Linked DNA regions of Homo sapiens. The protein of the gene in region 2 interacts with the protein of the main gene of each other region in a pairwise test. Each region holds a gene or a part of one and is shown on either strand. Other genes may lie near its edges.

What was found. Proteins that work in one complex are often made in the same cells at the same time.
Region 1: the proteins of TTC3 (region 2) and XRN2 interact in a two-hybrid assay, tested with the Homo sapiens proteins (one large-scale study listed by BioGRID and IntAct).

Annotation. Positions count from the first base shown.
Region 1 is NC_000020.11:21,330,831-21,334,330, reverse strand, and holds part of XRN2 (5'-3' exoribonuclease 2), read right to left. Parts: intron 2,771-3,500; coding exon 2,698-2,770; intron 2,564-2,697; coding exon 2,513-2,563; intron 2,049-2,512; coding exon 1,891-2,048; intron 788-1,890; coding exon 713-787; intron 628-712; coding exon 494-627; intron 395-493; coding exon 337-394; intron 254-336; coding exon 146-253; intron 1-145. UniProt on the Homo sapiens protein: Possesses 5'->3' exoribonuclease activity. May promote the termination of transcription by RNA polymerase II.
Region 2 is NC_000021.9:37,159,982-37,163,839, reverse strand, and holds part of TTC3 (E3 ubiquitin-protein ligase TTC3), read right to left. Parts: intron 3,039-3,858; coding exon 2,982-3,038; intron 1,851-2,981; coding exon 1,777-1,850; intron 1-1,776. UniProt on the Homo sapiens protein: E3 ubiquitin-protein ligase which catalyzes the formation of 'Lys-48'-polyubiquitin chains. Mediates the ubiquitination and subsequent degradation of phosphorylated Akt (AKT1, AKT2 and AKT3) in the nucleus.

The DNA of each region.
Region 1 (3,500 bases), on a different chromosome or scaffold from region 2:
AAGCACTGACCACTCATGATTACATTAGTGTTGACACACCATAATGATATAAAAACACACTCAAAGAGATTAAAAGTAATCACAGGATCATCATAGCCTATTAGAGACAGGAGCAATTTTAGCTACTGCAATAGAAACACTTTACCTCATCATCCTTTCTCTTTTTAAAAATGCTATCCTCAACTTCACCAACTGCTAACATGATCATCTGTACTCTTTGCAGATTGACATAACCACTTTCTGTAAGGTAACCCTGTAAGTGATAAAATATATGTAAAATGATCTTCTTATAAAAGCAAATACTTCTGTTTTGAAATCATTCAAGAATGAACTTACCCCAGTTTTGTGTACCACATTTTTGTATATGTTAACCAAACGGTCAATTGCATTTTCCCTGTCAGCAAGAGACAAACATTATGCATTAGGACCAGTAGGCACAGTAAAGTCAAGAAGCCTAAAACAGTCGTTTGAAAAGCTACACAAATGCACATACCTAATCTCTAACGATGGCAAATGAGGGAGGAAGTCATTTCCCACAAAGAAGCACATGAAAACCCAGTCATCAATGCTCCTCTCAACATCAAATGTGAATGGTAGGCTGGCCATTGTGAGTTCTCTTTCCAAATACTACAACCAAAAAGGAATGCTGCCATTACAGCTATCAAAGGCACCCTGCTTTAGAGTGCTGATTTCAATGATTATTGCTACATACCTCACGAAGAACATTAAGCCGAAGGAAGATAAACTCTCCTTCTGCACAAGGAAGACTATCGGCAAGTTCATCATGCTGCAAGAACAGGAATGAAGATGAAACAAGTCTACTCTACGTCCAGTAATTTTTTCCAACCAAGCAAATTTTAAGGCTTTTTCTAACGCACAATCCATTTTAATATCACAAGTATTTAATTTTTAAAAGCTCACCAATGCATTTTAAAATAAAAATTACCCATAAAATCAACCACGTCTAGATCAGGGGTCAGCAAACATTTTCTGCAAAGGGCCAGACAGTAAATTATTTTGGCTACTGGGGGACATATATGATCTCTGTTTAATAGTCTTTCATGTTTTATTTTGTTTTTAACAACACTTTAAAAATGTAAAAAACATAGCTCACAGGCCAAACCTGGAGGATTGAAGTTTGCCAACTGATGACCTATACCCAACCAATGATTACCCCTTCCTTGTGAACAGATGTGCATAGATACATGTATACTGTCTTTATTGTATTACATATCTGAAATAATACACTATATTTATCTCTTTTTTCACTTAACGATGTCTTTGAAAGAGGCACCATATTCTTTTTCCCCCCTCAAAAAGCATATGACTCAAGAGGCACCATATTATTGAAACAGAAGCCCCTTTAAAGGGGACTGGACATAACCAAGTGAACCTAAAATACATAAAAAGTGGGAGTAACTTAAAAGTCTTAAGAAGTTGTAGTTCCTTTTAAGAAGAGTATTTCAAACAAATAACTTCCACAAACAAATTACAAGCTATGGGCATTATTATCTATGGGAACTAAGCCTCGTGTAGATATAGGCAATATCAGAAAAAGTGCTAAGTAGAAAGGATGAGTGTGTGCATGTTTTTGAATGCAGGTTTATTTTAAAGTACTTTAAAAGATTCGTCTCTGTCGAGACTGTCTCAAAAGAAAAAAAAAAGAAAAAAGATACATCTCTGTGAAGGGTAACGGTAACAGAACAAGCACATAAAGAACTAATCAACCACAATCTTCTCTTCATCCATTTTAAAAACAAGGTAACTCAAATATTTAATGCTATTTAATTGTATACTTTAAAATGGTTGAAATGATATTTTATGTCATATACATTTTACCACAATAGATTTTTTTTTTTAATGAGGCAACTACCATCTCAAAGTTCTTACCTTTCCCTTCTTTTCTCTTGGCAAACCTTCACAATCTTTGACCTCATGTCCAAACTGATTACAAAGACCACATGGTTTGGGCTTGTTTGGTTTGAATTCTTCTCTAATAATGGTAAAGTTCGGTTCATGTGTGGCAAGGCCAAGCATAATGAGATCAGCTATCAATCAACAATGAGAAAAACATCGAACAGTGAGTATTCTGAGAGAAGTCTTACCATAAACTACTATGAGATGCCAACACAAAGAAAAGCCCAAATGAGCACCCAAATGAGCAGCAAAGCCCCAAAGCTTGACACTTCCTGGCATTTCCCAGTTAACAGGAAGTCCTCTAGATACGTGGACCTACAACATAGACTGCCACTAAGGATTAAACACTTGGGAAATTCTCCATTTTAAAGGTATGGGGAGTTAAAAGGTTGAAAAATGTAAGAAAGAAGAAAAGAAATTAAAGATCATTGACCACAGATTAAACAGCAACTCAATACTAGTTCCCTGTCGAACATAAAATAACCAAGGCATTTTGGAACTTCCAGGTAACCATGAATAATCCATTACTGCACACCAACCCATCAACTTGCTATGGTTTAATCCAAAAGAAGCAAATCCCAAAGAAGAAACTTACCATCTGCTCCACATAAACAATGATGAGTATTTGGGTCATGGTTAGGCTGGGCTAAACAAGAGAGAAACATGTATTTATATTAATATATTATATACCACAAGAATATCACTTCATACCAAGTATTTTCTATGCAATGGCTTTTTAAAAATAGAACATATAATCAAATATTGGTAAGTAAGCTTTACCTCTTTGCCTTCTAATGTAATCCATGATTTTATGTTCTCCTTCACCAGGAGCACTAGCATCAGATAAAATAACCTATAAAAAAATTGTTAACACTTTCAGATTATCCCCAATTTTCTATAGGCACAAAAATCAAAAGAATTATATGTCTCAAGAAAAACTGAGATAAGTGTTACGGGAAAATTTTCTGAATAAGGGTGTGTGTGTGTGTGTGTGTGTGTGTGTGTGTGTGTGTGAAAAACACCAAAACTACTTCACTGAAAATTTTCTGAATAAAGAAGGGGTGTGTGTGTGTGAGAGACACCAAAACCACTTCATTGATTGACTTACTACATGTAATGGAAAGGAATGAAATGTCTGGGTCAGACCTAGCCATCAGAAAAACTGATCATTCACAAGCTCCTATTTTCACTACTATGCAAGGATATAGTGCTGAACCATATATGCCCCAAGAATAATCAATAACACATATCTATAAAATATAATTTACCATTTCTCATTAATAGGGAAGCCAGCTTATGAACCTAAAATTACAAACAAGTTCATTTACATATTATTTAAATATTTGGGAACACAGCCATTTAAGACAGCCCCACAACTTACTAATTTTGCTGTATATTGATATGTAATAATGGAAATTTCCATTTAAAAATTACTTTCCTATATATATTTTTTAAATTATGAATCCCATTTTATAGCTTCATAGTGATGGTAAGAGGACAAAATTGGCTTTAAGAGAAAATTCAGCTATCTAAAACCTAACCATGCAAGGATACCCCATCTCCAAAAACCCTGGAAGCTTTTC
Region 2 (3,858 bases):
AAGCACTTTCAATTATTTAGTCTTGCTCCAAAGAGCAAAATTCTTAAAACTCCATATTTTTAAAAAAAGTTGCATTAATTATAACTTGTTAAATGACTGAAAGACAAATGAAGATTGTATTATAACTGCTATAAATTAACTTAAAGTGAGACTGAGACTGGTAAATGGTATTAATAAAAGGTTTTTTTTAAGCCAGGTGTGGTGGCTCACGCCTGTAATCCCAGCACTTTGGGAGGCCAAGGCAGGCAGATCACTTGAGGTCAGGAGTTCGAGATCAGCCTGATCAACATGGAAAAACCCCGTCCCTAATAAAAATACAAAATTAGCCAGGCGTCATGGCGCATGGCTGTAATCCCAGCTACTCAGGAGGCTGAGGCAGGAGAATTGCTTGAACCCAAGAAGTGGAGGTTGCAGTGAGCTGAGATCACGCCATTGCGCTCCAGCCTGGGCAACAAGAGCGAAACTCCATCTAAACAAAAGTTTTTTTTAAATGTAAGATGTTAGCACTCTAAAAAGATGTAGTAGTTTGAGTGTGGACTCTAAAACCAGGCTGCATGACTTAAATCCCAGCTCTGCTATTTATAAGCTTTGTGTTCTTGGGCAAGTCGCTCTGCACTGTGCCTCAGAGTTTCCTTATCTGTACATTGGACAGAATATAATAGCACTTACCTCCTAGGCAGGATAAGTGGATTGAAAGAGTTTATGTATGTAAACCCCCAAAACAATGTCTGATACATAAGAATTAATCTCAGTAAAGGCTATGCTATGGTCTGAATGTTTGTGTTTCTGCAAAACTCATATGTTGAAACCTAATCACCAATGTGATGGTGTTAGGATGTGGATTCTTTGGGAGGTAATTAGGCTCTACCCCCATGAATGGACTTATTGCCCTTATAAAAGAGGCCCCAGAGAGTTGCCTTGTCCCTTCCACCATGAGAAAACACAGCAAAAAGGCACCATCTATGAACCAGAAAGCAGGCCCTCACCAAACACTGAATCTGCCAGTACCTTGATCTTGGGACTTCCCAGCCTCCAGAACTGTGAGAAATAAATTTCTGTGTGTAAGCCTCCCAGTTTATGGTATATTGTTATAGCAGCCCAAACTGACTAAGACAGGCTATTATTTTAACTTAAAACAATTACCCTACTTAAAGAATCCATGAAATGACCACGTAATTTTTAACTGCTCTGATAGCTCCTTTAAGAAATGAGAAAAAAAAAACCATGTTGTACATTTTTGGTTCATAAAGGAGTATGATATAAAAAGGTTACTGCTACTCACTAGTTTTATTTCTTAAATATTTGTTTATTGAAAACTCAGTTTTGACAACCAGATGGCATTGAAAATCACTAATATATAAGGTGAAAACATAACATCATATACAGCTCCCAAAACAGCTTCCTCTCTTACAGGCAAAAATGCCTAGTAAGTATTAACAGGACATTCTCTTTATTGACTATTTTAAAGAATAATTTCTAGACATTTTTCTATGATTTTCCCACAGAGCCTTGCACATGGTAGGTTCTCAATATGTACTTAGTGAATGAATGTCACCAGTGTCGTGACTTTAACACAGTTTGAATGAATTCTTAATGCCTTCTAGCCACACTATATAAATGTAATCAAGATGGAATTACATCAGGTTGTCAGATGCACAGCTTTAGAAAGGAAAGTTAGGGAAATAAAACACAAGTTTATATATATTAAATTAACACAACTTATTAAGTAAAGACATTTGAGTTAAAATGAAGCAAAAATTTAAAAATTATACTTACCTATGGTCTTCACTTGAAGTGATGATCTCATTATTTGAAGTTACTGAAGTTGTTCCAGACCCAACTAACATAGGCTGGTTTAAAAGACAGAAAAATGACAATGATTTTCTACCTTAAAATTCCATTAAAGAGAAAAATCATTAAAATTGATGAATACTTATATAAACACACATACAAATTGCTGATATATAAGATCTATCCAAATTTTCTTATAAACAGGAACACATAGTAATAAAAGTTTCAACAGCCAAAAATAAGCTCAAATTAACATTTAGGATAGTTTCCAATGCTCCAAAAAAATTTAAATGTTACTCAGTTTAAACTCCCATTTTATCTAAACTAAATACATAGTCAAAGATAAAAATAAAAGTTGTATTGGAACTCCTTAACTGTTCTCATCCTTTGAAGATTTGCTACTCTCTCTCACTCCATCCCCCTTTCTGCTCCCCACATACACACAAGAGCCATGAAGAACCCACCAAAGACTTAAAAATTGTGCCCTACTTCTGGCACAGTGGCTCACGCCTGTAAGGCCAAAGTAGGCAGATCGCTTGAACGCAGGAGTTCTAGAACAGCCTGGGCAATATAGCAAAACCCCATCTCTCCAAAAAATACAAAAAATTAGCTGGGCATGGTGGCATGCGCCTGTCATTCCGGCTACTCGGGAGGCTGAGGTGGGAAGATCACTTGAGCCTGGGAGTTTGAGGCTGCAGTGAGCCGTCACTGTACCACTGCTCTCCAGCCTGGGTGAGAGAAGGAGACCCTGTCTCAAAAATAAAAATAAAAATGCCCTACTTATCTAATGGGCTTGGAGGAGAGCCTTTGGTGAGAGGAAGGAAGGGATTCTATCAATCCTGGGACTGTCATAATGATTAGTATTCATCATTTTTAGTTTAAATATGTTATCTATTTTTTGAGACTTATTTATTTTTTGGGACATTATGACAATTTTTTTTTTTTACTCAGAAATACCTAGAAAAATAAAAAAGACAATAAAGAATACGAGTGTCAAGACTTGCTATTATATAATATGAACCTGGAATTTCTTCAAAATGTAGAAGACTGCCAAAACATCTTTAAGTCCTAGAAAGTCTTTCTCTACAAATGTTTCAAAATATCCCAAGAATTGCTCAATTCTAATGTATATGTCCAACTAACTATTTTGGAGAGTTTAGACAAGAATTAATACAGAAAATACTCCATACCTTTGAATCCTTTGGCTTCTTTTTCTTGCTTTTGTTTTTCACCTTGGTTGAACTAAACTAAAAAATGGGGGGAAAAATCAGTGAACACTCAAATAACAGCATTATGAAGCTCAACATAAAGAAACCATATGAGTTTTTACAGACTAGCCATAAGTTAAATGTACATAAAATGTTTAACAAAAATAACACTACAGTGTATCAGCCCAAGTGCTACGATTTATAATAGAAAACAAACAAAATTTAATAATACTAATGTATACTAAAATTAAGTTGTTCCAACATTTTTATCTTATTTTCCACAGGGTTGGACTGTTATTTCAAGTAATTAATCAGACTTTTAAGTAATTCCAGTTAGATGCCATAATAGTAAATTTATTATTAATATATTTCTTTTACTAAGCCAAACTAGACATTCTGCACCTGACCAGACACTGGGGCACAAACAGTGAATAAAGAAGCCTTCAGCTCCTTATGGAGTATTTCAGCTGTGTTTCCCTGCTTAGCTGGGCAATATTTGATGGAGCAGATTAAGACAAAATTTCATATAGATAGATGATTTGCTCCTGAAAATCAGTAAACAGGCATTTTTCTCTTTGAAAACTGCCACAATGTTGTGCTTTTCTCTATTTACTCACTTTCCTAAACTGAAGAATTTCTGAAGAATGAATAAAAGGCAACTGCAAACTACTAAGGAAGACAACTCTGGAACTGTTTTAACTTAAACGTAATTTAGAGCCACTCAAAACAAAGTCCCTTTGTTTTCCTTCTAGAGCAGAACATTAGAAGTTTAGTTATTAAAGACAACTTTTCATTTTTATGCCAGGAGATGAAGAACTCTTCCTTTCTTAATTAGAATATTAATGTTTATCAGCTCTGA